Linked DNA regions of Homo sapiens. Changing the gene in region 7 together with the main gene of any one other region gives a genetic interaction. Each region holds a gene or a part of one and is shown on either strand. Other genes may lie near its edges. The genes, in order: RINT1, ASCC3, PPP2R1A, CEP295, GET3, MCM3AP and SEC22B.

Region 1 (3,608 bases), on a different chromosome or scaffold from region 7:
TATTTTTAGTAGAGATGGGGGTATCACTATGTTAGCCAGGATGGTCTCGATCTCCTGACTTTGTGATCTGCCCAACTCAGCCTCCCGAAGTGTTGGGATTACAGGCGTGAGCCACCACGCCCGGCCCTGTAATTTCTTATATTTAGTGAATAGGGCACAACTGTACTTGTTTTCATTTTCTATTTATTCCTCCAGTAACTAAGCAACTAGAAGCATTAAACCAAATACTAGAAAACAAAACCCAACAGGTAATTTATATCTAGTTCTGAAACTTTTTGAGGTCATGGGTCACATCTATCATCTTGGTTTCCCCATTGTGCTGTAAGCATACAGTAGATAGACAATGTTTTAAAATTTCAACTGATCTTATCCCACCCAAACATCTCCAGAACCCTAAAGTTAAAAGGAGTTAGCCTCCTGTAACAATTTGATACATTAATATTAATTGTTAAATGTTGAGCTTACTGTTTAAAATAATTTTCTGGTCTCTTGCAATAGTGAGAAAACAAAGGGAAAAGATTCCGAGTCATATCAAACTGCAGCTGGGCTGCTCCTCCTTCATTGAAGTGATTAGCAAGAATTATCTGAAACAAAGAATAATTCATATAACAGTTGTCTTTATTATCACAGCCCAAAAACAGTCTATTCTTACTTACTTCTTGGTAGATGTATACATCCAGCTTCTCTACAAGCATTTGCCAGAAAATTTTAAATAAGGAGAAACAAAGCTGCTGCTCCAACTGAAGTAAATGGTCTCGTAACGTCAGCAGCAACGGGCAAGCCGAACTGGACAGGGACATCACTGCCTGCTCTGACTGAGATGGCAAGGACAACCATCTGGAAAAAACACATTTTTACCAAAAAATTTTCATCAGTTTCTATTTTTCAAGTTTTTAAATCATTTTAAATTTGAGGAAGTGTTCTGTCCTAGGGCATTTTGGATAAGAAAAAATATACAGCCTAACATTAAAAGCTCTATCAGAAAATAAATGTACCTGTATTTATATTTTCACTCTCAAATACTCTTTAATATGGGGATATATCCAAAATATCCCCAAATTTTAATATGTGAATTACTGATATAAGGCAATTACAATTTAAAATGTCACTTAATTTTTGCATTTTATTTATGTAGTTTTTCTTTTTTTTTGAGACAGAGTCTCGCTCTGTTGGCCAGGCTAGAGCCACAGGGTTCAAGCAATTCTCGTGTCAGCCTCCCAAGTAGCTGGGATTACAGGTGCCCACCACCACGCCCAGCTAATCTTTGAATTTTTTAGTAGAGACAGGGTTTCGCCATGTTGGCCAGGCTAGTTTCGAATTGCTGCCCTCAAGTAATCTGCCCGCCTTGGCCTCCCAAAGTGCTGGGATTACAGGTGTGAGCCACTGCACCCAGCCTGATTTTAGCATTTTAATTAAGACATCAGCTAATATTATCCTCTAATTTTTAGTAAAAACAGGACTAATAAACGAATTTTAAGCACTCTGTGTGGCAGGGACTATGCTAGGACAAAAAGATACTGCTTGCTATCAAGGATGAAAGTAACACAGGTGTTCACAGTGAATGGTAGTGGGATAAACCACAACAAAAGTATGCAGAGTACCACAGGTGCACTTTACTTTGCAAAATGGGAGACAGGTTAGGCTATTCAACCCCAGATCACACACTATCCTATTGATATATTTACAAACAACTAAATTATAATCAGTTTATTCTGATTAAGAATGTCAGCCAGGTGTGGTGGCTCACACCTGTAATCCTAGCACTTTGGGAGGCCGAGGCAGGTGGCTTGCCTGAGGTCAGGAGTTGGAGATCAGCCTGCCCAAAATGTGAAACCACATCTCTACTAAAAATACAAAAATTAGCCTTGTGTGGTGGTGCATGCCTGTAGTCCTGGCTACTTGGGAGGCTGAGGTGGGAAGGTCACTTGAACCTCTAAGGCAGAGGTTGCAATGAGCCAAGATCGTGCAACTGCACTCCAGCCTGGGTGACAGAGTAGGACTGTCTCAAAAAAAATGTCCAAGAGAACATACTTTAGAAATATTTCCATCAACAATAAAGTACATAAGGCCAAACCGGGTTCTATCTAGACACCTTGAAAATCTGACCACATATTCTTTAACTTTTACCAAACTGGTGTTAAGAGCTGACTTACATAGAGGACATACCTTTCTTTTTTATACAATTTTGCAGCATCTTTAACTTCTCTAAAAACGTGGTCTACTTGACGGGTCAACATATCATGCTTTAAACGTTCTAAGAGGTTAATCATGTCATCAAAGACAGAGCTCTCCATAGAGGCTAGCTGTCCTAGCTGCAATTTACTCAGAGTATTATTCTCTGCAAACACCTCCAGTGCAGCCTGTTGAAGTTGTAGAAAGAACTGAAAGCAAAAACATGTTAACACATTAGCATACTTTTTTTTTAACAGTTTGAAATAGAATTCATATGTCATACAATTCACCCATTTAAAGTGTATAATTCGACCGGGCACGGTGGCTCATGCCTGTAATCCCAGCACTTTGGGAGGCTGAGGTGGGTGGATCACCTGAGGTCAGGAGTTCGAAACCATCCTGGCCAACATGGTGAAACTCCAACTCTACTAAAAATACAAAAATAAGCCGGGTGTGGTGGCATGTGCCTGTAATCCTAGCTTGAACCTGGAAGGTGGAAGTTGCAGTGAGCCGAGATCATGCCTCTGCACTCCAGCCTGGGCGACAAAGTGAGACTCCATCTCAAAACTAATAATAGTGTATAATTCAATGATTTTTTTATATATTCAGTTGTATATCCATCACAATTTTAGAACATTTTCATCACCAAGAAAAAAGCCGTTATCCTCTAATACCGTCTCCCCACTCCCTCAACTCATAGGCAACCACTAATTGACTTTCTGTCTCAATGGATTTGCCTGTTCTGGACATTTCATATAAATGAAATCATACAACGTATGGTTGGTTGTGACTGTCTTCTTTCAGTACATTTTCAAGGTCTATCCATATTGTAACACGTATCATATTGTAACACGTATCAGCACTTCATTTTTTTTACATTGCCAGGTAATATTCCATTATATAGATAGACCACATTTTATTTATCCATTCATCAGCTGGTGGACATTTGGGTAGCTTCTACTTTGTCTATTATGAACAAATGCTGCTGTGAACATTTTTGTACAAGTTTTTTTTGTTTTGTTTTTTTGTTTTTTGTTTTGAGACGGAATCTCGCTCTGTCACCCAGGCTGGAGTGCAGTGGGGTGATCTTGGCTGACTGCAGTCTCCGCCTCCCGGGTTCAAGCGATTCTCCTGCCTCAGTCTCCTAAGTACCTGGGATTACGGGCGTGTGCCAGCACACCTGGCTAATTTTTTTTTTTGTAACTTTCGTAGAGATGGTGTTTCACCATGTTGGTCAGACTGGTCTCAAACTCCTGACCTCATGATCCGCCCACCTCAGCCTCCCAAAGTTCTGGGATTACAGGCGTGAGTCACCAAGCCTGGCAGTACAAGTTTTTATGTGGACATATGTTTCATTTCTCTTGGTATGTACTGAAGAGTGGAATTGCTGGATCTTATGGTAAGTCTATGTTTTAACAGTTTGAAAGGCTAGGCAT
Region 2 (4,438 bases), on a different chromosome or scaffold from region 7:
CTGGAATGTCCTCTTTCGTCTGTGCCTTCCCGATACTAAGCATCTTAAAAACAGCCTAAATGTCGCTTCATGATTTTTCTAAGTAATATTTTACCTCTGAACTCCCATAGCATTTCCCCCCATCACTAGTATTAGTGCAATTTTTTTATTATAATTATGACATCTTGTCAACCCCAGGCTACCCTTTGTGAAGGCAGGATATGTTTCTGATTCATGTGGGTATCAGAATACTCAACACAGTGCCTACAACAAATCCTTGACTGGAACTTCAATTATTTTGAGTTGATAAACTCCAGAGAAATATGAAATGACCTGCCATGAAAACAGAGTTGTATAGTGTGATAGCCAGCCCAGAGGTGCATGTTCTGAGATAAGTGGGCTGTGGTGTGGGTACATCAGTTAAGAAAGCACTTTATAATACAGCCCTGAAACCTTTTTATCACAATATTTCTCTTCACGAAAACAAAACCATCCAAGACACTTTAGAACAAATGCATTCTCTCAATAATCAGCATTTGGAATTATTTTAAACACTGGGAAAATTCTTGGCCACTAAAAAAGTTATAAGAAGTGAATGACTTGCAGATATGTAAATAGTAGTACTAATCTGAATATGTTGGCATATATTCTAAGACACATTTAACACTACAATTTTTGTTGAGTAATGAGTGTGGATAAAGTTGTAGATAGTGTCGGTCACTCATTGGAATAAGATTAACTTAAATTTGTCACATTATTTCTCTTCTCTCTAAAGGGGACAACAGAAATACTTTCTTATTGTTCCTATGTCCTGTGTCGTATGTCCAGTGAAGGAGACTCCCCAAGTTGGCTTGCTCGCTAACAAAAAGGAATGATGTTGGTAAACATGGAATCAGTGAGATTGTTACTCCTCAGGTTCCTGTATGGACTGGTGATTGTTATCTATATATAATCTCCATTTTCTTTTAATTCTACTAAAACAGTGGTTAAGATATAAATTCCAATTAGGTAATAAACTTTGCCAAAGAAAAAACAGAGAGAACTCTTTATATGAAGTAAATTTCTCAGACTAGAGTAATTGGGACACCTCATTCTCACTATACTTGGTTTGCTCACAATAGTTATTTCGATTTAATTTTTGGGAAGTGAATAACTGGTTCCCCTGCAACCTACATTTATTTCTTCTTCTTTTTTATTTAAGCATGGAAAAGGATATATACAAGCAATACATTCCAATTTCAGAAACACTTAAATTCTAGTATTTGTAACAATGACATTGGAAAATGTTTTAAAATAATTCATTTTAGGGCTAAGAAAACTGAAATTATTTCACAAAGGTAGAATTTCATTCCACTAGAATGCATATTATATGAACATTGAATTTTAACAAGTTTTTAGTTTGAAAAAGTATTTTTCAAGAAGGAATTTGTTTGGACATAGAGAAATTTTCTTTATTACAGGTGAAAACCTATCCATAGGGGTGAAAAATTTTCTGTCTCAGATTTTTCCTGGAGAGCATAAAGACAAATAATTGTACTATATGATCTGTAAGTGCTACAACATGAATTAGATTATACTTCTCTACTTCTGTAAATAAATATGTCAGAAAGATAATAGAAATAAAGCCTTGAAGTAGAAGGGAAAGAAAAGAAGAACAGATGAGTAAGGGGATATTATTTAAAGGAAGCAGAAGAAAACATTGAGTCAGCTTGTCTTGAAGTGCCACTCTATATTTTATTTCCCAGTTAACCATGTCTACATTTTCTAAGATCAGTATATTGTTTTCTTTGTTATCATCATTAGGCTCCATAATATAATTTTACATCATATATTATTAAACATTTATGACTACAAGAAATTCTTGAAGCTACTTCTACATGTGATCATATCAAAGTATAAATTTTGCTAACAAGACACGCTGTGTACCACCTTACAGATTTATAGTTTATGCGGCAGAGTTAGAAATCTGTGACAAGTCCTAACACTTGTCACATCTCAATGTGGTTTTCCTTAAAAAAAGCAGCCAATATCCATGTAAACAGTACATTGTGAGATGTAAAATTTGATTGATAGCTCCTAAATATCATCCCAAATATACACAAATTAAAAGATTATTCTAAATGCTTTTTCATCTTACATATCAAGAAACTCATAAAGATAACATTATAAAAGGCAACATTTGTTAAAAGGCCACTGTGGTTAACTTTATGTCACTGGAGTCAATACTGCAGCCACTGTCAATTTCCTGGATGGTTGAGGTTAGAAGTTGATTCTTTCAAGGCAAACATCAAGTAATTCGATTTGTCTAGATGACTGAACAGAGAGAATTCTTAGCCACTCCTTTCAAATGGATTGTTCAGGTCAAGTTACTTTAATGCCAGGTCAGTCAGGGAATCAGAGACCTTGGTGTTGACCTGTGCAGAAAGACTCGCTTGTGTAACGTTGAGATAGATGTCATACTGCTGGTCCAGGCCAAGGTAGCAGTCACTCATGAAATATAATGTGTAGATATACCTAAAATATAAAAATAGAAGAAAAATGTAAAACCACTTTTGTAATCACAATCATATTTAATTCTTTCAGAACTTTGGTAGTAGGAGGCTGGGTGCGGTGGCTCACGCCTGTAATCCCAGCACTTTGGGAGGCCGAGGCGGGCGGATCACGAGGTCAGGAGATGGAGACCACGGTGAAACCCCGTCTCTACTAAAAATACAAAAAATTAGCCGGGCGCAGTGGCGGGCGCCTGTAGTCCCAGCTACTCGGGAGGCTGAGGCAGGAGAATGGCGTGAACCCGGGAGGCGGAGCTTGCAGTGAGCAGAGATCGCGCCACTGCACTCCAGCCTGGGCGACAGAGCGAGACTCCGCCTCAAAAAAAAAAAAAAAGAGAACTTTGGTAGTAGGATTCTTCTTACCTTCCAGGTATTTCAGGGGTATAAAAAGAAAGGGAAGCAACATGATGATTTCGAATATATCCTACTCTTTTCAAAGCAATAAGTTCTCTCTTATCCACTTCTCCTAATATCAAAAACCATCCTTCGTCTTTTGATTTGGGAAATCGAGGAGTAACTGCACAGCTCTCTGGCTTTCCCTGTAAACCAGAAAAAAAGATACAACATTAAAAATATCTAGACTTCCTATACCACTTGGTTGTGGTTAAGGCTACGTTGTCTTACTTGAAGGCCATACATCTACATAGTTCAGCATATCTATCTGAGATGTTTTAAATTTTCTTCCATTCTGGTTTGGTGTCTTTGATATGCAATTATTTAACTTACTTCAAGATTCTCAGAGCATATTATAGACACTAGTTCGTAGTTGTAACTATCAGAATATATGGCCAGTTAGAATAAAAAACTCTGGATCTTGACATCAAATTAGCAAATTCTCATGCTATTCCTACAATTAACTTTAATACCACATTGGTAGATGAACAAATTGAGACATAACCATGTTAATCAAATCTTCCAAAACCTTATTCACCAAAAACGAATGCTTAAGAAAACAAACAAACAAACAAAAACACAAAGCCAATCAAGACTAGACTCTGGACCCCAAGATGATGAGTACTATATCAAACACATACTTTCCCCCTCATCCAAGAATAAAACTCACATAAAAAAGCACATATTCTAATATGGTAACATTAAAAAGTCCCTTCTCTGAGGAATGGGCAATTTTAAGTCAAGCAATTTGTAAAATATATTAATCACCACAATCCAAAATTAGATATAAATATAATGATCGCACTTGAGGTCTTTATTTTAGATCAATTTTTATAAAATGCAAGATTATTCTAATGATTCTTTAAGACAATGACTTTATGGCATAAAATATAGTAATAATGATACATTCTCAGACTTCACTCAGTATTCTAGAGGGAGATGTTTCACTTACAGTATTTCAAAAGGGAGTCAGAGAGTAATATATTTTTACAGCATTCAGAAACAAAAATTAAGAGATTTTCTGGCATGATTAAATCTAAGCTTTAAGTAGAATATTAAGGTAAAAAAATCATAGTTTTCCCCCATGATTTTATCTTTATGATTGTTGCTATTTTTATTATTACTATTATTAGTTTGTAATTATTACTTTTTTTTATAAGTTGGAATACATTAAGTCATCTAAAAAATGCTCATATTGCCAGGTGCAGTGGGTCACGCCTGTAATCCCAACACTTTGGGAGGCCAAGGCAGGTGGATCACCTGAGGTCAGGAGTTTGAGACCAGCCTGGCCAACATAATACAAAAAATTAGCTGGGTATGGTGGCAGGCACCTGTAATCCCAGTTACTCGGGATGCTGAGGAAGGAGAATTGCTTAAACCCGGGAGGCGGAGGTTGCAGGGAGCTGATGTTGCACCCTTGTACTCCAGCCTGGATAACATAAGTGAAATTCCATCTCAAACAAACAAACAAATGAAACCTCATATTAAGGTCAGGTGTGGTGGCTCATGCTGGTAAT
Region 3 (4,620 bases), on a different chromosome or scaffold from region 7:
ACCCATTTGCTGGGCCTCAGAGACTTGGGGGTTCTGAGATTCTGTTCCACTTTCCCAGCCTGCTCTGATCTCCCTGTTTGGGGCCCCAGTCCTTGTTTATCATACTTCTGACCTTTAAGTAATTGGTTGGTTGGTTGGTTTTTTGCAGTTTGTTTGGTTTTCCTTTGAGGCAGAATCTCGCTCTGTCGCCCAGACTGGAGTACAGTGGTGCGATCTCGGCTCACTGCAACCTCTGCCTCCTGGGTTCAGGCAGTTCTTGTGCCTCAGCCTTTCAAGTAGCTGGGATTACAAGTGTGCACCACCATGCTTGGCTAATTTTTGTACTTTGAGTAGAGATGGGGGTTTTCCCATGTTGTCCAGGCTGGTCTTGAACTCCTGGCCTCAAGTGGTCTGCCCACCTTGGCGTCCCAAAGTGCTAGGATTACAGGCTTGAGCCCCCGTGCTCGGCCTTGAGTTTACCTTTTTTTTTTTTTTTTTTTTTTTGAGACGGAGTTTCGCTCTTGTTGCCCAGGCTGGAGTGCAATGATGCAATCTTGGCTCACCACAACCTCCGCCTCCCAGGTTCCAGCAATTCTCCTGCCTCAGCCTCCCAAGTAGCTGGGATCACAGGCGTGCACCACCACGCCCTGCTAATTTTGTGTTTTTAGTAGGGACAGGGTTTCTCCATGTTGGTTTGGCCAGGCTGGTCTCAAACTCCCAACCTCAGATGATCCACCCACCTTGGCCTCCCAAAATGCTGGGATTACAGATGTGAGCCACCACGTCCGGCCTGATTTTACTTTTAATTGACTCATAATTTTATATATTTATGGGGGTATAGTAGTGTTTCAATAATGTGTGCAAATGTGTAATGATCAAATTAGGATAATTAGCATATCTATCACCTTAAATGTTTACTGTTTCTTTGTGATGAGAACATTCAAAATCTTCTCTTATAGCTGTTTTGAAATATGCAAAATGTTATTATTAACTATGGTCACCCGCCTGTGCAGTGATCAGAGATTTCTAATTCCTGTGTGTGCCCTGGATTCTTGAGACTCCTCCCACCTTGGGTTTGGTGTATCCGTGTCTGTGTACACTCTCTTGCCCAAGAGCCCTGTGCCCACCTGTTGCCCCAGTCCATCCTGGCTCACCCTCTCTCTCCCTGTCTCCTTTCGCTTTCCAGCACCTTGCAGAGTGAAGTCAAGCCCATCCTAGAGAAGCTGACCCAGGACCAGGATGTGGACGTCAAATACTTTGCCCAGGAGGCTCTGACTGGTAAGACCTAGAAAGCACGGAGCCCTAGCAGGAGGGTGGACTTTGAGGACAGGCACTGGGCCTGTGGGCAGCAGCTTCTGGGAGGGGGAGGTACCTTGGCATTGTGGGCAGAGAGAGGGCTCTGGTTCTGATTCTTGCCTGTTCCTGTTTTCCTAGTTCTGTCTCTCGCCTGATGCTGGAAGAGGAGCAAACACTGGCCTCTGGTGTCCACCCTCCAACCCCCACAAGTCCCTCTTTGGGGAGACACTGGGGGGCCTTTGGCTGTCACTCCCTGTGCATGGTCTGACCCCAGGCCCCTTCCCCCAGCACGGTTCCTCCTCTCCCCAGCCTGGGAAGATGTCTCACTGTCCACCTCCCAACGGGCTAGGGGAGCACGGGGTTGGACAGGACAGTGACCTTGGGAGGAAGGGGCTACTCCGCCCACGTCAGGGAGAGATGTGAGCATCCCGGGTCACTGGATCCTGCTGCTGTAATGGGAACCCCTCCCCCATTTACTTCTCCACCTCCCGTCCTCCCCATCATTGGTTTTTTTTTGTGTGTCAACTGTGCCGTTTTTATTTTATTCCTTTTATTTTCCCCCTTTTCACAGAGAAATAAAGGTCTAGAAGTAGTTGGTCCTCTGGCCTTAGTCATCAGCTTGGAGGAGGGGGCACCACCCCAGAGCCACAACATCTGCGCTTTTCTCTGGAGAAGATCTTGTTACAGGACCCATTATACCCCTATGTCCCGAAAGAATACTCTGGGGATCCCCCCAGGAGTGCTGCTGGCCTTTGGGGTAGAGGGTCCATGAGGTGCTCTGGGTGGTGTCCTGTAGTGCAGTTCAGATTCATAGATGTCGGCCGAGTATTTGGGGGGTTAAGAGCAGGTGCCTTGGAACCAGACTGCCTGGGTCCAAATTGTGGCTCCTTCAGTTAATAGACGTGTGACTAGGAGTAGCTTGTTAAGTCTTTATGAGCTCAGTTTTGTATTGTGTAAAATGAGAGTTACAGTAATACCTAGATTGCAGGGTGGGTGGCGAGGACCAAGTGAATTAGTACCTGGAAAGTGTGTAACAGTTTCAACATGAGAAGTACACAACATGAGAAGCAGAGTTAGCTGTACATTGCCAGAGAACCCCCTGTGGGCCATTTCCTGTGTTCTTGAAGAAGACTTGGGCTTGGACCCTGTCCCCAGGAGGTCTCAGAGTAATCAGGACGGTACTAGGGAGAGAACTGTGGCAAGATAGATCAGTTATCTCGGTATCTATTCTCCCCTTCCTAATGTAGAAGCTCTGATTTTTAACTGGGCAGATGACTACATGGATTCAAGGTATTTTCCTAGTGTCTCTTGAAATTAGGTGTGGTATTGTGACCAAATTCTAGCCAAAAAGATGTTGAACAGAAGTGGTATATGCAGCTTCTAGGAAGTGTTCTTAAGGGGGAAGGCGTCATCCCCCACCTTTCCTCCTTCCTGCACTCTGGAATGTGGACCAGATGGCTGGAGTAGGAGCTGCCACCTGGGGCCAGAAAATGATCTTAGGCGTGAAGGTCAAGTAAGGCAGGACAAGAGAGAAGGAGCCTGCCTCCCCGAGGCTGTGAAGAGCCATGCCAGTACTGTCACCTGGGAGAATTAAACTGGTCAAGTGCCTGTTCGTTTAGGGTTTCATCACTTGAAGGTGACCGGAATTCTAACTGATGGAGGGAGGGGCCCAGAGCACCCTGGAGAAAGGAGCAAGGGACGTATGGCTGGTGGTGTCTGCATGGAAGGGTTTCACAGAGGAAATGATGCTTGAGCACATTTTGACCCAGGTGGTGGAAGGGAAATGTGGCTTTGAGTGACAAGGTGATTTCACCAGCTCAGCCTTCATATTACCACATCCCTACCCTTTGTTAGACTTTATTGTGCCCTAGGGGATGAGGCTGAAGGAGACCAAAAAGCATCTTTAGAAATTTCCATTTATGCCCTGGGCGATAAACTCTCTCCCAGTTGAGAACTACTGCTCTAGAAATGTGAACACACGTGTAACCAAACGTCAAAGTCTGACATTAAACTTTGACTTTCCCCATGGTTAACGCTGCTGGTCCATTGTAACAAGAGTGCAGTGGACCAGCAGCCTTTGCATTCTCAGGAGCTTGTTAGAAATGCAGAGCCTCTCGTCCCTGCCCCGACCTGCTCAGGCAGAGCCTTCATTTTAACAAGATGCCCAGGTTCATCTGCACACTGAAGTTAGAGAAGTCCTGCCTTAAATACTAACCCAGTTTTTCTCTCTTGAGAGTGAGGTTAATGCTACGTGGGTCTAGGGCTGAGGATGTGCTATGGCTCAGAGGTGGGGTCTACAATTGGACATGTGTATGTAGACAAGGCTCAGGGATATGTTGAGGCTGCTAGATTGGGCAAGTGATGGAATGGGATTATTACAGGAGGTGGAGGTGCGATGGATACCCAGGATGTGCTGGGTAATGAGGTGATACTCAGCGACCACAGGAGTGAGTATGAGAGACGAGGGTGAAGGATAGCTTGAGTTATTGAACGCTGGCAGAGTCCTGAGTTAACCAGGAGTTGCCTGGTGTCTTGGGTCATGTGCTCTAGAAGCAGAGCCCGAGTGGAGACTCGTTCAAGTGTGTTACTGAGGGAGTGCTCTCAGGAGAACGGACTGAGGTAACTCACCTTCTGTGAGCTTCATGTTGGAAGAATCCAATCAGGTGATGAATGTGATGTTATTAAGTCCATTGTTAGGAGTGGTTCCTAATCTCCCAGGCTGCAGGCTTTGTTTGCTCCATACACCTGGCCTTCTCTGTAGCAGCTGAAGTTTGATGCTGGAGCTGGGTCAGGGTGGAGAGACTGTGTGGAGCCAGGACTCATGACCCTGGCCTGTTTCTCCCGCTCTCTAGGCCTAAATCCCAGCAGTCACACTGGCCATCTCTAATGGTTCCTTCCACAGCACTGTTCTTCAGAGCCCACACACAAATTTTGTCTCCTTTTGTGATGACTGCACTTCTTTGGCTGTTTTTGCCAACAGCCTCTTCACTGACCCCTTCCTTCCACTGCATTGACCCAGACATCTGGATGTGGATGAGGTCGAGTCACTTGTTGCCTTTGGCTAATGCATAGGGGCACGAGTAGAGCTCTAGAATCACCATGCCCTTGACTCAGGGTGCAGAATCTGCCTATGGTGCTTGAGCTGTGGTTGTCGCTAGAGGAGAATTACCATGGCTCCCCCGGGCAGATGAAGATGACGAGGTGGTGCCTCAGCCCCGAGGAGTGAACTGCAGGGCACCGACAAGATTCTGCCTGTGGCCATCAGGGCTGGAGGGAAGGAGGCCAGGTTCATCTACCCAAGCTGGTGGCATGAGGCATAAATTTAAAAAAATTGGTGTGGGCACA
Region 4 (4,620 bases), on a different chromosome or scaffold from region 7:
AGTTGTAGAAATACTGGAGCCTACTTTGGGGAGGGGATGAAATAGTGTGACAATGGACTGAAAGGTATCTACCACAATGATTACAAACCTAAATGCTTGTAGTGTTGGGCAAAAAATATAAATGCAGGTTGGCTGTGCCGAATTGTATCCTTTAAAGGGAGCAGGGGTCGACTGGGCTGCTACCAAATGTGGGCCACTGACTGCTAACAGATAATGTTTCAAAAGTATCTAAACACAACAAGAACAAAAGCAGCCACATAAAACGTGGTTTAGTTGTAATTCTTATTTTCAATCTGTTATGTTTATTTGTGGAAGGATAAACTGCACATACTGCTAGATGAAAACCAGTCACCAGTTGACTGGTGTTGAAAGCAAGCAGATTATAAGTTGCTTAATATGAGGAGCAGGTTTCCAATACTTATTCCAATAATGGATGAATTCATTGCACTGGAATGAGGCTCAACACTGAAAGTGCTGAAGCACAGGCAGAACCACCATTTTTCAGGGAAGTTGGAGAAAGGATATCTGAATTGGGAGAAAAAGGATCTTTTGTAAAATACTCTCAGAAGACAGTTTTCAAATTTTTAAGTTTCTGCATTATGCTGGATATTTCTAGTGATCACAAGCTGGATAGCAATATTAACAAGCAGTTTTGCTTGTATTTTGTTTCAGGTTTTTCCTGCCAGGCATTGTGGTGTGTCCAAACTACTTCGGAAGTTGAGGCAGGAGGATCCCTTGATCCTAGGAGTTTGAGTTCAGCCTGGGTAGCATAGTGGGAACTTCATCTCTAATTTTAGAAGAAAAAAGTTTTTTCCCAAAAAGGAATTTAAATGTTATTTATACAACACTGATTTCACTTACCCAGACTGGTATAGAGCTCTGTAATGAAAATGATCCAGAACTTGCAAAAAGCTCTGATTCTCCTAGTTGAGATAGTTTTTTGGTGATTTTTGGAATGTCTGTTTCAGCTGAATTCTCAAAATATTTTTCATTTTGAGTAGTTAAGGAATATGGTGCCTGAATTGAAGTTCCCATCTCCACTGTTCTTACACATAATCGAGAGTCAGTTTCCTCTACCTGTGGATTTATGTCTAAAACCCTACAGGTTTCATTTTTATTATCTTCAATGAGTCCTTGACTTTGTAACATTGTAACAACCCCTCTTTTTGATAGTTCTTCAAAGCCCATACTTTCCTTTCTGCTTTCTAGTTGGTGTTTTGTTGAGCACTCACTAGAGTTAGAACCACATGGAGTGCTATGCTGTACATTTAACTGATCAAATACATTAGCTTCATCAGATGAACTGTAGACTGAACTTAAGTTTCCTATAGAAAGCTGGAAATGAACAATTTTTTTCTTGTTTTGTAATATTTCAGTATGTTCTTCAGAGGGATAGTTCTGATTTTTCATGCCTTGGGAAGAATCTCTTGCTTCAATGCTAAAAATACTTGGTAGATCAGCATGCTGGCTCTCCTCCTGTGAAGAATATTCTGGCTGAAGCTGTTCAAAACATTGTTCAGATCCTGCATTAAGAAATTCAAAAATCAGTTAATCATCGTTACATGTTGTAAAAGTTGGATACTGACAGTCTCTAATAGTTTATCATCCAATTGCAAGTAACCTACAATTTTAGGCATAAAAGTTGATGTGTATAAACATGAATACAAAGATAAGGATGGTCACAGTGATTTCTCAAACTACAGCTCACACCAAGTATTTTTTCTTTTTCTATTAATATTTAATAAGGACAATATGGCTATAAACTGAGGATGTTTTCCTCTATAAGAACTGAATATGACTTTAATAACAGAAAAGAGAATAAAGCATCCATGTGTATCTCAATTATCCATGTGTGTATATATAATTTGTACATCCTTGTGTATCTCATGTATGTTTGTGTGTATATATAATCATTTGTACCAAAGGCTCAAGAATACTTGTTTTCTATGTTGCCCAGGCTGGTCTTGAACTCCTGGGCTCCAGGGATCCTCCTGCCGCAGCTTCCCAAAGTGCTAGGATTACAGGCGTGAGCCACTATACTTGGCCTAAGAAGAATACTTAAACTGGCTGGGCATGGTGGCTCACACCTGTAATCCCAGCACTTTGGGAGGCCAAGACGAGTGGATCATCTGAGGTCGGGAGTTCTAGACCAGCCTGACCAACATAGTGAAACCCTGTCTATACTAAAAATAGAAAATTAGCTGGGTGTGGTGGCACATGCCTGTAATCCCAGCTACTTGGGAGGCTGAGTGAGGCAGGAGAATCACTTGAACCCAGCAGGCGGAGGTTGCAGTGAGCCAAGATTGCACCACTGCACTCCAGCCTGGGCAACAAGAGTGAAACTCAGTCTTCAAAAACAAAATAAAAACAAAAACAAAAACAAAAAAAACAAACAAAAAAATAATACTTAAACTGTTAACTATCACATAATGATTGAGGTAGGGAAATTGAGGAACAAGAGGCAACACTTTTCCTTTTATTTCATAATGTTCAGTATTGTTTAAAAAAATGCATGTATTACTTCTGTAATTTAAATATTTTTTAACACCCAGGATAGGGGTGAGAGCAGGGGTGAAGACAAACCAAGAGGTGCTAGGCTTAATTTCTAAGGAAATGGATGTAAAAAATCATGGAAAAATTAACTTTTTCTAACTTAGTCATACATACCCCCAATAATATTTTCTGTAGCAAAACTGTGAGCTCCAACATGAGCCAAGTTAGTGTCAGGTTGTTGATTCGGACTTGTGTTAAGAGAAGAATGCATGCTGGTCCTCCTCAGTGCTGTGAAATAAACTGTACTTTTGGATAATCCAGTAGCACAGTGGCTTTCAGATGAAGAATCTGATCTCTGGCAGGAAACAAAAGGGAAAGGCTGAAATACTGATTAGGTATTAACAATTGAAACAATAATCATTGTGTTCCTTTGGTATTACTCTTCCTTAATTATCACTTCACTATGACAGCAATGATTTGCTTTTTCAAATCCAGTTCTTTTCAATCAATATGAAAGAGACTTTAAAATGTCAGGCCATCAGGAAGTGGAAGCAAAAAGACTCAGGTTTAAATCTCAGCTCCTTTGACTGTGTAGGAGGATACTTTAAATTTTGCAAAATTGTATTTACTTTACTGTTTAAATATGTTCCACAACTAAAAGTTGTTATTAAGCCTTTTATGGCATCATACTCCCTAGGTGGAGACAGGTGGATGGGACAAACAAAATTCTAATGTAGCTGTTTTCCTTTTTTTTTTTTTGAGATGGGGTCTCACTATGTTGTCCAGGCTGGAGTGCAGTGGCACGATCTCGGCTCACTGCAACCTCTGCCTCCCAGGTTCAAGCGGTTCTCAGCCTCCCGAGTAGCTGGGACTACAGGCATGCCATCACACCCAACTAATTTTTGTGTTTTTTAGTAGAGATGGGATTTCACCATGTTGGCCAGGCTGATCTCAAACTCCTGGCCTCAAGCAATCCACCTGCCTCAGACTCCCAAAGTGCTGGGATTACAGGCATGAGCCACCGCACCCGGCCCAATGCAGCTGTTTTCAAAGTTGGTTCCACATTAGAATCACTTGGGGAGCTTAAAAAATAATAATAATAATTAGTACTATCTGAGCACTCCCAGAAACTCTGCTTTAATTGGTCTAGGGTGTAGTCTGGACAATAGGATTTATTTTTATTTTTTATTTAAGTTTTCCATGTGATTCTTTTTGTTTGTTTGTTTGTTTCTTTTTTTAAAGACAGGGTCTGGCTCTGTCACCCAGACTGGAGTGTAGTGGCACGATCTCAGCTCACTGCAGCCTCCACCTCCTGGGCTCAAGTGGTCCTCCCACCTCAGCCTCCCGAGTAGCTGGGACTACAGGTGCGCACCACGACACCTGGCTAATTTTTGTATTTTCAGTAGAGACAGGGTTTTGCCATGTTGGCCAGGCTGGTCTCGAACTCTTGGCCTCAAGTAATCTGCCCGCCTTGGGCTCTCAAAGTGCTGGGATTACAGGTGTGAGCCACTGTGCCCAGACTTCCATGTGATTCTAGGTAAGGGTTTAGAAGAACTTTTGTTCCAGTAGAAGAAATGGCTTAAAACTATTTTTAGATATTCACTGCAATGGGACATCTACTTTAATATACCTGGTAAAAGTCTCTGTTGTCTGGAGAAATCCCAGAGGATGATGATGATAAGTCAAAATCTGGATGTGGTTCTAAGGGTTTAAACAGCTGATGATGCAAATTAGGAAAAATGTGTTCCAATTCTGGAAAGTCAAGGTCAACTGTTAGAATTTTTGAGGGAAAAAAATCATAAATTTATTTTTAAGGTAAACACTAGAAAAGGAGTATTAAGAACATATTCATAAACGCTTATTTTCAGGTAACTCCAGTGTAACAAAAACTTCAGTTTTTCCCCCATGATCAGCAGATGCTTTAAAGTTAAGTCCTATCATGATTATTTCAAAGGTCCAAAATATGGATCCTCTCAGTGACCAAAACTTTTTAAGTTTTATTTTTAGAGAAATTTAATTTTTTTAAATTTAAAAAATTTTTTTTTAAAATAGAGATGGGGTCTCAGTGTTGCCCAGGCTGGTCTTGAAATCCTGGGCTCAAGCAATCCTCCTGCCTCAGCCTCCCAA
Region 5 (4,620 bases), on a different chromosome or scaffold from region 7:
AAGCTGGAAGTAACCAGAGTGGGGGATTTTGCCAACAGCAAGGGGAAAGGGAGTGTTTGCAGAGGGAACCTGTGGAGGCTGGGCTGGATAAGGGTGCCAGCCAAGAGGAACACTGACAGTTTACAGGGGCCAGGTGAGGGGATGAAGTAGTCCAAAGAAGCTTAAAATATATGAAGCATAAGAAGAGGGTGCAGTGATGAGTGGGCAAGCTCCCCAACAGGGAATGACCCCTAAGGCCAGCGAGTTGGGTACTTCCCCATGGGACCCATGAAGTTACCAAGAAGAGGTGACAGAGGAGGAAGATAAAGAGGGAGGCATTGGCCGGGCATGGTGGCTCATACCTGTAATCCCAGCATTTTGGGAGGCTGAGGTGGGTGGATCACCTGAGGTTGGGAGTTGAAAACCAGCCTGACCAACATAGAGAAGCCCCGTCTCTACTAAAAATACAAAATTAGCTGGGGTGGTGGCGCATGCCTGTAATCCCAGCTACTCAGGAAGCTGAGGCAGGAGAATCACTTGAACCCTGGAGGCGGAGGTTGCAGTGAGCCAAGATCACGCCATTGTCCAGCCTAGACAACAAGAGTGAAACTCCATCTCAGAAAAAAAAAAAATTACAAAAATTAGCCAGGCATGGCCAGGCGTGATGGCTCGTGCCTGTAATCCCAGCACTTTGGGAGGCCGAGGTGGGTGGATCACGAGGTCAGGAGATCGCCACCATCCTGGCTAACACAGTGAAACCCCGTCTCTACTAAAAATACAAAAAATTAGCCAGGTGTGGTGGCGGGCGCCTGTAGTCCCAGCTACTCACTGCACTCCAGCCTGGGTGACAGAGCGAGACTCCATCTCTTTTTTTTTTTTTTTTTTTTTTTTGAGATGGAGTCTCGCTCTGTCGCCCAGGCTGGAGTGCAGTGGCGTGATCTCAGCTCACTGCAGGCTCCGCCCCCTGGGGTTCATGCCATTCTCCTGCCTCAGCCTCCCAAGTAGCTGGGACTACAGGCACCCGCCACCTCGCCCGGCTAATTTTTTGTATTTTTAGTAGAGACGGGGTTTCACCGTGTTAGCCAGGATGGTCTCGATCTCCTAACCTCAGGTGATCTGCCTGCCTCGGCCTCCCAAAGTGCTGGGATTACAGGCGTGAGCCACCACGCCCGGCCAAGACTCCATCTCAAAAAAAAAAAAAAAAAAAAAAATTAGCCAGGCATGGTGGGGCATGCCTATAGTCTCAGCTACTCGGGAGGCTGAGGCAGGAGAATTGCTTGAACCCAGAAGGTGGAGGTTGTGATGAGCTGAGATCGCGCCACTGCACTCCAGCCTAGGCAACAAGATCAAAACTCCATCTCGGGAAAAAAAAAAAAAAAAGAGGGAGGCATTGAGTCTGAGACTGGCCAGGGACCCCAGCCATGGCCATCCCTTCATAGATTCTACATACATGTTTGTGTTTTGTTTTGTTGTTTGTTTTTTGAGACAGAGTCTCCCTCTGTCACCCAGGCTGGAGTGTAATGGCGTGATCTCGGCTCACTGTAACCTCTGCCTCCCGGGTTCAAGCGATTCCCCTGCCTCAACCTCCAGAGTAGCTGGGATTATAGGCACCCGCCACTATGCATGGCTAATTTTTGTATTTTTAGTAGAGACGGGGTTTCACCATGTTGGCCAGGCTGGCCTCAAGCTCCCGACCTCAGGTGATCTGCCCGCCTCCGCTTCCCAAAGGGCTGGAATTACAGGCATGAGGTACCGCGCCTGGCTGGATTCCCCATATGTGCTGACGACCTCTGTGCCAGGCACTGTTCATGCTAAGCGCTAAGGACACAGCAGTGAACTAGATGGTAAAACCCCTGCCCCTGAGGGGCAGACATTCCTGCTATGGAGACAGATGATAAACATGATAAGGGAATCATGAGGGATGTGAGGAAGGGCTAATTTTTTTTTCAGATAGGTCTTGCTATATTGCCCAGGCTGGTGTCCAACTCCTGGGCTCAAGCGATCCTCCCATCTCATTCTCCTGAGTACCTGGGACTACAGGCGTGAGCTATCCTGCCCAGCTCCTAAGGGCTAAACCTTAAGGAGAAAGGAAGGCAGGGCAGGGGTGTCGGTGGATCTGTGCTGTTACTTAGGGTGGTCAGGGAGTCTCTCAGTGGAGGGATGATGATCCGGAAGAGGTCATGGCCCAGTCATGGGAGTATCTGGGGTTGCAAGTGGCAGGTTGCAAGTGGGGAGTAGCAGTGTAAATGGCCCGCAGTGGGTTTCAGCTTCCCTTTGAGGGCCCTGGGCACAGCTTGCAATTTTCCCCTTGTTTTTGACCCTTTATGCAACCATACAAAACCCTAAGTACTACCTCAGGGTCCCCCCAGCCGTGACCTAATGAAATGCCTGTGGTCACAGCCCACCACAGGCTCCCTCTGGCCCTGTGCCCGGGTAGGAAGGCTCCCCCTGGCCCTGTGCCCAGGTGGGAAGGCTCCCCCAGCAGTAGCAGCAACCTCAGTCTCATCCCTTTGGCCCCCAGGAGATTGACCCCAGCCTGGGCGTGGCGGAGCTGCCTGACGAGTTCTTCGAGGAGGACAACATGCTGAGCATGGGCAAGAAGATGATGCAGGAGGCCATGAGCGCATTTCCCGGCATCGATGAGGCCATGAGCTATGCCGAGGTCATGAGGTCAGGCCCAGCCAGCAGGGGTGGGGGCTGCCTGGGGAAGGGGAAGAGCGGACACAGAGGGCCTGACCCCTGTCTCCCCTCAGGCTGGTGAAGGGCATGAACTTCTCGGTGGTGGTATTTGACACGGCACCCACGGGCCACACCCTGAGGCTGCTCAACTTCCCCACCATCGTGGAGCGGGGCCTGGGCCGGCTTATGCAGATCAAGAACCAGATCAGCCCTTTCATCTCACAGGCAGGCGGCGGGGGCCCCCACCTGCACCATCCAGGCAGCCGGGAGTGGGAGTAGGCCCGGGCCCCCAGACCCTCAAATGCGCACTAACAATTCCCTTTCCTTCCCACCCCTTCTCACTCTGGACTTCTCCCTGGAGGGGATGGGACGGAGCTGTCTTTCCTCCCCCACAGGCAGGACTCAGTGTCCCTGCCCCTGCCCGCTAAATACCCTAGACAGAGCCAGAAAGCACATTCCAGAACCAGGCAACCTGCCTTCAAACCCTCTACACTCACCATGTGACCCAACTGCTGTGTGACCTCAAGCAAATCACTTCACCTCTCTGGGCCTCACCTTCCTTGTCTTGCAAATGGAGATCATGAGAGTGCCCCATGGGTTATTATTATTATTATTCGAGACGGAGTCTCGCTCTGTCACCCAGGCTGGAGTGCAGTGGTGCGATCTTGGCTCATTGCAACCTCCACCTCGTGGGTTCAAGTGATTCTCGTGCCTCTACCTCCCAAGTAGCTGGGACTACAGACATGTACCACCATGCCCAGCTAATTTTTGTACTTTTTGTAGAGATAGGGTTTTGCCATGTTGCCCAGGCTGGTCTTGAACTCCTGGCCTCAAGCAGTACACCCACTTCGACCTCCCAGAGTGCTGGGATTACAGGCATGAGCCACTGTGCCCAGCCCCCATGGGTTATTATTACGATGACAACCCTAAAGCCCCCACAGTGCTGCACACCACCAGCACCACCCACCATGGTGTATGTGCACGTGTGGGTGTGTGCGTGTCCCCTGTGGGGACCTGTGCCTCAGGTGGTAACACTGAGCACTTACTGTGTGCCAGACACTATTCTCAGCACATTATATGCTTCAGCTCATCTGGTACAACAGATCTGGGAGGTAAAGTTTAGAGATGGGGAAACTGAGGCTCCAGGAGGGTCAAGCCCCTTAGCTATGGTTCCCTAAAAATGGCAAAGCTGAGGCCGGCCGCAGTGGCTCATGCCTGTAATCCTAGGACTTCGCAAGGCCGAGGCAGGTGGATTGCCTGAGGTCAGGAGTTCAAGACCAGCCTGGCCAAAATGGTGAAACCCCACCAGTACTAAAAATACAAAAATTAGCCGGGCATGGTGGTGCGCGCCTGTAATCCCAGCTACTCAAGAGGCTGAGGCAGGAGAATCGCTTGAACCCAGGAGGCGGCGGTTGCAGTGAGCCAAAATCACGCCATTGTACTCCAGCCTGGGCAACAGAGTGAGACTCCATTTCAAAAAAAAAAAAAAAAGAAAGAAAGAAATGGAAAAGCTAGTATTTGACCAACCCCAGGAATCTGCTTATGGGCCTGAGCCTTTAACCACTGGGAGGTATCAGGAGTCATCCCTCGGGTGTTTAGTGAACCCCCAACCCAGGAGGTCGCCGCAGGTAAGCTATGAGCCCTCCCACATCCCCCCTGCAGATGTGCAACATGCTGGGCCTGGGGGACATGAACGCAGACCAGCTGGCCTCCAAGCTGGAGGAGACGCTGCCCGTCATCCGCTCAGTCAGCGAACAGTTCAAGGACCCTGTGAGTGGTGGTCTGGCTGGCGGTGAGAGGCCCGGGGGCTGAGGACAGGGGCAGACCCCGCCCCTCACTGTCCTCTCTCGTGCCCTGTAGGAGCAGACAACTTTCATCTGCGTATGCATTGCTGAGTTCCTGTCCCTGTATGAGACAGAGAGGCTGATCCAGGAGCTGGCCAAGTGCAAGATTGACACACAC
Region 6 (4,110 bases), on a different chromosome or scaffold from region 7:
AAAATGTCAGAAGAATTAATTATAGATGCATAAAACCAAAGTAAATTAAATAAGATAAGCCAAACAAGACAATTACAAGTAATGTTAAGTAACACATCGAAGCAGTTGTTTTTGGATTAATACCACCTTTTTCATTAAATATAAATTGGAATTGGATTTATAAATTAAAGGGAAGTGGTTTCTCTAATTTTTTTTTTTTTTTTTTTGAGATGGAGTTTTGCTCTTGTTGCCCTGGCTGGAGTGCAATGGCGTGATCTGGCTCACTGCAACCTCCGCCTCCCGGGTTCAGGCAGTTCTCCTGCCTCAGCCTCCCAAGTAGCTGGGATTACAGGCACGTGTCACCATGCCTGGCTAATTTTTGTATTTTTAGTAGAGACGGGGTTTCACCATGTTGATCAGGCTGATCTTGAACTCCTGACCTCAGGTGATCTGCCCGCCTCGGCCTCCCAAAGTGTTGGGATTACAGGCATGAGCCACCGAGCCCAGCCTAGTTTTTTTTTTTAAATTAAGCTTTATCATAGGAAGTTGTTAAATTTTTAATAAGTACATTTCTGCTTCTCAGTTGATGTCATAACTTAGTTATATTCTTAGTAAAAAGCAAAGGCTTAAGGCTGGGTGTGGTGACTCATGCCTATAATCCCAGCACTTTGGGAGGCTGAGGTGTGCACATCACTTGAGTTCAGGAGTTGTAGACTAGCCTGACAATACAGCAAAATCCCGTTTCTACAAAAAAATACAAAAATTAGCTGGGTGGCATGCGCCTCTAGTCCCAGGTATTTGGGAGGCTGAGGTGAGATCATTTGAGCTTGGGAGGTCAAGGTTGCAGTGAGCCAAGATTGTAACACTGCACTCCGGCCTGGCCAACAGAGCGAGACCTTGTCAAAAAAAAATAATAATAAAATTGGCCAAGCACAGTGGCTCACTCCTGTAATCCCAGCACTTTGGGAGGCCGAGGTGGGTGGATCACCTGAGGTCAGGAGTTCAAGACCAGCTTGGGCAATATGGTGAAACCCCATCTCTACTAAAAGTACAAAAAATTAGCTGGGCACAGTGGCACTTGCCTATAATCCCAGCTACTCAGGAGGCTGACGCAGGAGAATCACTTGAACCTGGGAGGCAGAGGTTGCACTGACCCGAGATTATGCCACTGCACTCCAGCCTGGGCAACAGAGTGAGACTCTGTCTCAAAAAAAAAAAAAAAAAAATTATATAAAATTTTAAAAAAGCAAAGGCTTAAAAAGTTTTTAAGTATATATAGAAGATTAATGAACAATAGTTAACTTCCTAATGCTCAAATATTTTTGAATTTATTACATATTGTTTCAGGTTTGAAGATCAGCTTCAGCAATGGTTGTCTGAAGACTCAGGAGCATTTACGGATTTAACTTCCCTTCCCCTCTATCTTCCTCAGACTCTAGTGTCTCTTTCTCACACTATTGAACCTGTGATGAAAACATCTGTAACTACTAGCCCACAGGTGAGAAGAACGTATACATTTGGCATTTACATAAGAATTAAAGATTGAGAGAATGGCTGGGGAAAAAAGTAATATCACGATTTATCCTATGATGTTTTGATGACCGACAAATTATTAGCTCAAATTAGACCTTTTCTTAAACTTTATCCATATCATTGTTAAAGAGACCCAACTGATTTTGAGTTTCTGCCTACGAAATAAATGAAGAATAGAATTGAAATATTCTTAAGAACTGAATAAGACCTGTAACTGTGTGCTGATGTGTAATTAAGGGCATTAAGGTGATGACAGCAGCTTCTGTTGGAGCACATATTGTCTGAGCTTTGGCATTACCCAGACCTCTCTTCTGGGATTAATTTTTCCTGAGGAAAACTAATGAATGAGGAAGGTAAGCTCCCAGAAGTCAAGAGCCTCACCCAAGAGTGTTCAAGTAGTGAGTGGTCAGGTTGCTTTTCAAAGCCAGATCCAACTGGCTCCAAAGCCTAAGGTCTTTTTACCTTACCATTCTTCCTTCAGTGGTTAAAGATGCAAAAACAGAGTTTCAATCACAGATATGTGCCACTGAACAGGTAAAAACTGTGCTCCTGGACTGGCTTTAGGAAGTCCTTCAATAGAGGAGAAAAGCAAATTAAAATGATGTACTGTTTCCATTCATCAGTTTGGCAAATACTTTAAAAATATTCATACCCTTTGAATTACCAATTCTAACCTAAAGAATTCTGACCTACCAGATATTCCCCAAAAATTAATGTATAAAAATGTTTACTGTAGCATTATTGTATGAAAGTCGAAACAGAATAAATATCCGAAGATGGGAGTCTGATTAAACAATTATAACACATTCATGTGATAGAATAATTCACAGCCCTTGACGATGATATTTTCTAAAAATGACTGGCTGGGCGTGGTGGCTCATGCCTGTAATCCCAGCACTTTGGGAGGCTGATGAGGGAGGATCGCTTAAGTCCAGGAGCTTGAGTCCAGCCTGGGCAACATAAAGAGATCTCATCTCTACAGTACATAATTAGCCAGGCATGGTGCTACATGCCTGTTGTCCCAGCTACTCAGGAGGCTGAGCTGGTAGGATCACTTGAGCCCAGGAGTTTGAGGCTGCAGTAAGCTCCGATCATACCACTGCGTTCCAGCCTGGGTGAAAAATGACTGACACTGGAAATTGTTCATGATAGAATACAAAGGCAAACAGTCTATATACAGATACCAGCTGAATGTACGAGCTAAATGAGGCTGGAAGGATATACAAAGGATAATTTTTTTCCCTCTGTAAAAATAAATGACTACTCAGATGAGGTTTCTAACATGATCCAGATCTAGTACCTTCCCAGAGATAGGTCGTGGTTTATTGACATCCCAAAACTGTTCAGTTTCTTTTTTATTCAAATAGAGTGACATGATGAGGGAGCAACTGCAGCTGTCAGAGGCGACAGGAACGTGTCTAGGCGAACGACTAAAGCACCTGGAAAGGCTGATCCGGAGTTCAAGGGAAGAGGAAGTTGCCTCTGAGCTCCATCTCTCTGCGCTGCTAGACATGGTGGACATTTGAGCAGCCTGACCTGTGGGGAGGGGGTCTCTCCCGAAGAGTTTCTGTTTTTACTCAAAATAATGTTATTCTCAGATGCTTGATGCACTGTTGGAAATGTGATTAATTTAATCATGCAGATAAACCATTTAAATGTCAGTCTCCCAGTTTTTCATAATGAAAAGTTGTTTCCCCTGTGTGACCTCTTCAATATTCTCCTATATTCATGACCTCCTCAGATTGTCACCCACCAGCATATGCTCTGAGGCAGTTTAGAGCTTACATTTCCATGTATAAAAGGCGATTCATTCTCTCAGCAAACTTGCAGTCCTTGATGTGCCAGACATCAGTGATGCAGAGATAAAGTAAGACACAGGGCCTCTGCCTGCTAAGCCCACCCAGCTTACATCCAGGAGAGTCAGGTACTTATGTACATAATTCTCAGAGAATGTGCATGAGGCGTGGGCCTGAATTGGTAGCAAGGAAAAAACAGAGGATGGAACAGGGTCTGGTTGGGTAGAGGAGAAACAGAATTCCCGGAGAGGAGTGCAGGGGTGTAGCTGGAGACAGTGTACTTGAGAGGACATGATGAAAGCGTGGAGGTACCAGCTTGGTTGTGTGGCCAGGTGAGGGGAACAGGCCAGCAGGGTGAGGTCAGAGATTCTTGTCACCTTCTTCTGAGAGCTGTGAGAACCCGTTGTTGAAGATTAGGCAGAGAAGTGATCTGGTCACATTTTCTTTTAAGAATGGCATGTAGGGCAGGAATCTTGAGAGGTGGGTGCTGCAGCCATCCAGGTGAAATTCAAAGGGAATAAGCGTGAGTTTGTTAGCAATTGGTGTGAAGAGAGGGGATAAAATTTGAGCCATATACAGAAAGAGGTATTAATAGACTTGGTGATGTTGCGTATGACCACCAATCTTAAACTGGCACTCAGCATCTCCTGACTGTAATCCTACATCCCCAGACTCTATTTCATGTCTTCTCATTCTCTTCAAACCTCCAACATTCTTAGATCATGTCCTCCTTATTTCACTGAGAAAACAACAGCACTAAGAAGAGAACCTCTTCCTCCACCAAATCAATCCCTGCTTCTCC
Region 7 (4,620 bases):
GGCCCCTGTAGAAAGTTAACCTTTGTTGTTTTCCTTTTATAATTTGCTTATTGCACAATTGCTTTAGGGTAAGTGAATTATATTAAGATGCCTTGAAATTATAGCACTCCTTGATTAAGAAGCTAAAATGTTTCTCTCATTTACTCCTTAAACAAAAGACTTAAATTAGTTTGGGTCATTATTACTTTTATTTTGCAGCATTTGGTTTGTTATTAGCGTAAGAGCAAGTATAGGATATGGAGAGGCCCCTGGCTTCATGAGAACAAAGGCAGGCCCAGGTTATAATTACAGCTTTCTCCTGCCCCTTCTTTACTTTCTCTACCACAGTTTTCTCCACTGTTTGTTTTCCTCTTGCCACAATTTGCTAACATTTAAAAAATTTTCCTGCACCCAGTAGTTTCATATCCTGTAGACATCCTCTTAGGACATTCTCAAATTTCAAAATAAAAAATATTCATCTATGTAGTTAATTAAAGTTAAAGTTTTTGCAGATCAACTACTCAAACTACTAAATACATTTACCTGAGAAAAAGTCTCTGAGAGCACTTCATTCCTGTTTTAGTTCGTGTAAATTCTCTGAGAATGTTCTGGAGATAGATAACTCATTTACAGTGGTTTCTATTAACTAATTAAAGTACCCATGATTTTTTCCTTTTCTGCTCAGGGATGATGGAGATTTCCTTTTACCTTCTGAGGTAGAATTTTTTAATGGGGAAAATAGGCCTTTTAAATATTATTGCCAGGGTCTGCAATATAACTTAAAATTCCTGTACATACTGCAAATATTTCTTTAAATTGCACAGGAAAATGAGCGAACTTTTTATTTCTTAATATCTTTGGCAAAAAACTTTAACCAGTAAGCAATTTTATAACCCTGAGGGATCATCAAAGATACTATCCTGATTCCTGGTAAGGAAAAATATATTATTTCCTTATAACAAGGCAAGGAGAAATGCTATTTTATTCCTGATAATTTATATAACTAGAATAATTTTTTTCCTTTCTTTTATGGACCTAAATCTGCCAATTGGGAATTTTGTGCATGAAATATGAAGTTACTTTTTATAGATAATCAGTGCTTTTAAGTCCCTAAAAGGCTCCTGCTGAAGTAATGATGATGTTAATAATAAAAGCCTTTGAAAGGCTGAAAACCTACATAGTGGTACCATAGTATTTGGAGCTTCTATAGGAGTGGAGAGGGGCAGCTCATTGTTGAGAGTTGCATGCTGCAACCTAATGGTCAGCAATGAAATAAATACTTGTAGAATGTTCACTTCAGTGTGAAGTTTTGTTATCTAGTTAATTTATATACATATATCCTTTGTAGATACATTTCTATCTAATCTTGTTGGGCTAATTAAGAAATAAGGGGTGGGGTAATTGTCAACAAAGGGAGAAGAAAGTGGTTTAAGATCAGGGCAGCAGAAAAATTAGAGAACAAGAATATCATAATATGGCTCCTGGTTTTCTTTATAAGAGGCAGTGGGAAGATCTGACTAGATGAAATGTATCATCAACCAAACTGGCATCTAAAATAGAATGGGATAAATACTGTATGGGGTTATTGGAGGCATATTAAGAAAGGACACCTAATTTATTTTGGGAAGAAGTATGTTAAGAGAAGACTTTCTAGAGAAGGAGAATGGGGCATTCTAGGAAGAGTCAATGGCATGTGCAAAGGCATGAATAAAGACAGTGAGGCATATTTTGGAAATGTAACAGCTTGATTCAGCTTAGCCCATAGGGTAAGCATAGACAACAGAGGAGACTTGAGGAATGAGAACTAGATGGGTACACTATCATAAAGGGACTTGTCTATCATGCTGAGGAGTTTAGACCATCTTAATGGTAGTGGCCAAGGATGGCATCAGATTTATAGTTTCAAGTGATCATAATATTGGCATAAAAGATATATTAGGGAGGAAGCCTGAAGTAGGGAGATGAAAATAAGGAGCCATCAAAGGCAGAATGAAACTTAGGCAGATTTCAAGTGATTTTCAAAAATGTTGTGATCAGAGGTACCAGATAATAACTATTACATAACACTTTCTTTGTTAGGAGCTTATTTCTCACACTGACCAAAGCTTTTGAAGTAAGTACTCTTTACACCACTATATAAATAAACCTTACAAAGGATTCTGCTTTGAGGCATGAGAGAGTTAAGTCATTTGCCCAAAGTCACAGAGTTAGAAAGTAATAGAGCTAAGATTTGAACCTAGGCAGTTTGGCTCCAGAGTCTGTGCTCTTACGCTATATTACCACCAAGAGGTCAAATAAATACCAAAGAATGTATTTTCGAATTTAACAATGAGGAACTTAATCATACAGGCAGAAGTAATTCCAGAGCACTGGAGACAGAAGCCAGATTGCCATATGGGTTAAAGAGTGTGTAAACCACTAGGAAGTAAAGACATAGAACTACTCTCACAAGTGCTTTTCTGGTTATTGTGACGCTGAACTTCATGGCTTGTTTTAATTAAGACATCTTACAAGTGTCAAAATTTGGAAATATTTGGACACTGTACACTCTGGTTATTTAAATATCTAACAATGGTTCTTGAGCATTTTGAGAAACCTTTGAAAATCTGATGAAAGGTATGTGCCATTACTCTAGAAAAATGTTCCTGTGTACATGCACATCAAGTATCACATACTGTTTCAGGCTGTTCAAAGACTACAAAGTCTGTTCATGACCTAATGGTCCATGTTCCCTCAGTTAAGAGCTCCAGAGATAAAGGATGTGGAACTCAAAGGTAAGTACCCAGAGCCTTGAAAACTCCATCTGTGACTTGGAAGAATTCTACAATTTGAATTAACTTTGTGGAGAGAGATATATTTTTGAAAAATTGTGTGTACCAAAAAAATTTCATATCAAATAATATTTTCCTGTAGTGCATTCAAGGATCTGGTTCCACAGCAAAAAATTGTTTTGGTCTCAGTTCCTCAAAATCACATTTAAGGAGCTTGAGATTTATATTTTCTACTTAATAAGTCTTACAAAAGCAAGTTAAGAAGGAAAATGGACAATCATTTCTGCACATATAGGGTTTAATAAAACATGTATAATAAAATATCTCATATTTTAAATTTCCACCTTATTGGTAGCTTTCATGACAAAGGGCTAGGGTGCTGATGGCCATACAATTAAGGTTTTTGGTTAGTTAGTTAGCAGAACTAACTGACTCCTACCTGGTGGGTTTTTCTTTTGTTTGGTTGGTTGGTTGGTTGGTTTTTTCCCAGATGGCTCAGGAGGAAGGTAAATAGCAGTCATTGTATGTGTGACAGAGTTTGAGATAGAATGAGCATATTGAATCTCACATCCTATTCTTATTACTGTCAGGCAGCGTTGACCTAGCAGTATAAAACTATCTGAAGCAATGTAGTCACTCAGTTCTCATAAAGTTTATTTCAAGTACTGTAACAATTCATGTTTGGATTAGAAAAGTCACTAGAAATTTGACTTCCATATAGTAATCTATACTTTTTTCTCTCATTTCCTTCATTTTTTGAGCCGTAAGTGTAAGGCATTTTGCTGGTATTATTACAATGGTTATGAGGAGTTTCTTTGCTTGCCCAAGGTCACATAGCTAGCAAGTTAAAGTAGATTCAAATCCAGGCCTGCTAGATACCAAATTATTATTTAAGAGTACTTTTCACTACTCCTAAATAATGACACAGATACGTTTGTCTTACACATTTCACTTTATTGTCAAGTTATTAGTATGTTTATTTTCAAAAGTTATTTTTTGCAATTTCTTTTTATTATTCCGTACTTTTTAAATTTACTTCATTATCACGTCTTCCTTTATTCTTTTTAAATAGTTTTTGCTTTTGTTATTTTGTTTTCCCTTTTTTACTCTTGGTTTGTAATACCTCTTTCCTTATTTGCTCCTTTCTCATTTGATCTCAATGTTAATCCAACTGTTTTCCACATCTGATTCACTAAAATTTTAGCCCTTAAAAAAAAAATTCCTGTTTTTCCTATCTCCTTTTGTCCATTCTCTTCTCCTTGCCTCACTTCTTTTATCTTTTTCCATTTTACTTTCATTTTTTGTTTCTCTAGATGTTGTTTTGACATATGAGTTAATGTACTGGTACAATTTTGCATCTGTAAATTAGAGCTTCAGAATCAACTGAGTGTATTTATTCTTTATTTTTAGGCCTAAATTTATCTTACCTTTTATTGATTTTATAATATACTATACTCTTTCATTTTAGTCTGCATATGTTAGCCAAAGAAGATATGCCCCTGTTTTAAGAAATCTCTGTAAAAAATGTCAAGTGTGACAAGAATTCTTCAAGAAACAAGCTCCTCTAGTTTGTCTTCTATATTTAGAGCTTCAACAGTTACCTATATTACTGGTAACTCCCAAATATACCTTCAAACTTGTTTTTTGGGCCCAAGTTTTTTGCTTCATATATATCTGTTTTGAATATCCCATAAATAATTGCATCTAAAGCATACCTCCACTCCATTGTTCTCAAAGATAAAACCAAACCTGTGCTGCTTCTTATATTTCTAGTATTTAAGCGTCACCTGCCACCCCTTTACCTGAGCTACAAGTCACGCATTGCATTAGACTCCTCTGCTTTCTTCTTTCACCTCTAACTAGACTATTA

What was found.
Region 1: changes in SEC22B (region 7) and RINT1 together harm fitness more than expected from each alone (negative genetic interaction), as found in Homo sapiens cells (one large-scale study listed by BioGRID).
Region 2: changes in SEC22B (region 7) and ASCC3 together harm fitness more than expected from each alone (negative genetic interaction), as found in Homo sapiens cells (one large-scale study listed by BioGRID).
Region 3: changes in SEC22B (region 7) and PPP2R1A together harm fitness more than expected from each alone (negative genetic interaction), as found in Homo sapiens cells (one large-scale study listed by BioGRID).
Region 4: changes in SEC22B (region 7) and CEP295 together harm fitness more than expected from each alone (negative genetic interaction), as found in Homo sapiens cells (one large-scale study listed by BioGRID).
Region 5: changes in SEC22B (region 7) and GET3 together harm fitness more than expected from each alone (negative genetic interaction), as found in Homo sapiens cells (one large-scale study listed by BioGRID).
Region 6: changes in SEC22B (region 7) and MCM3AP together harm fitness more than expected from each alone (negative genetic interaction), as found in Homo sapiens cells (one large-scale study listed by BioGRID).

The regions. Positions count from the first base shown.
Region 1 is NC_000007.14:105,562,506-105,566,113, reverse strand, and holds part of RINT1 (RAD50-interacting protein 1), read right to left. Parts: intron 2,382-3,608; coding exon 2,167-2,381; intron 991-2,166; exon of another isoform or gene 838-990; coding exon 657-837; exon of another isoform or gene 585-656; coding exon 466-584; intron 1-465. Other genes in the region: EFCAB10 (EF-hand calcium-binding domain-containing protein 10), read left to right, coding at 499-565. UniProt on the Homo sapiens protein: Involved in regulation of membrane traffic between the Golgi and the endoplasmic reticulum (ER); the function is proposed to depend on its association in the NRZ complex which is believed to play a role in SNARE assembly at the ER.
Region 2 is NC_000006.12:100,507,041-100,511,478, forward strand, and holds the end of ASCC3 (activating signal cointegrator 1 complex subunit 3), read right to left. Parts: intron 3,068-4,438; coding exon 2,892-3,067; intron 2,494-2,891; coding exon 2,346-2,493; 3' UTR 1,154-2,345; downstream 1-1,153. UniProt on the Homo sapiens protein: ATPase involved both in DNA repair and rescue of stalled ribosomes. 3'-5' DNA helicase involved in repair of alkylated DNA: promotes DNA unwinding to generate single-stranded substrate needed for ALKBH3, enabling ALKBH3 to process alkylated N3-methylcytosine (3mC) within double-stranded regions.
Region 3 is NC_000019.10:52,224,552-52,229,171, forward strand, and holds part of PPP2R1A (serine/threonine-protein phosphatase 2A 65 kDa regulatory subunit A alpha isoform), read left to right. Parts: intron 1-1,165; coding exon 1,166-1,257; intron 1,258-1,413; coding exon 1,414-1,430; 3' UTR 1,431-4,620. UniProt on the Homo sapiens protein: The PR65 subunit of protein phosphatase 2A serves as a scaffolding molecule to coordinate the assembly of the catalytic subunit and a variable regulatory B subunit.
Region 4 is NC_000011.10:93,723,879-93,728,498, reverse strand, and holds part of CEP295 (centrosomal protein of 295 kDa), read right to left. Parts: intron 4,246-4,620; coding exon 4,124-4,245; intron 2,849-4,123; coding exon 2,668-2,848; intron 1,524-2,667; coding exon 862-1,523; intron 1-861. UniProt on the Homo sapiens protein: Centriole-enriched microtubule-binding protein involved in centriole biogenesis.
Region 5 is NC_000019.10:12,742,877-12,747,496, forward strand, and holds part of GET3 (ATPase GET3), read left to right. Parts: intron 1-2,500; coding exon 2,501-2,649; intron 2,650-2,732; coding exon 2,733-2,883; intron 2,884-4,320; coding exon 4,321-4,428; intron 4,429-4,518; coding exon 4,519-4,620.
Region 6 is NC_000021.9:46,234,196-46,238,305, reverse strand, and holds the end of MCM3AP (germinal-center associated nuclear protein), read left to right. Parts: intron 1-1,326; coding exon 1,327-1,477; intron 1,478-1,979; exon of another isoform or gene 1,980-2,082; intron 2,083-2,879; coding exon 2,880-3,038; 3' UTR 3,039-3,173; downstream 3,174-4,110.
Region 7 is NC_000001.11:120,151,857-120,156,476, reverse strand, and holds part of SEC22B (vesicle-trafficking protein SEC22b), read left to right. Parts: 3' UTR 1-4,620. UniProt on the Homo sapiens protein: SNARE involved in targeting and fusion of ER-derived transport vesicles with the Golgi complex as well as Golgi-derived retrograde transport vesicles with the ER.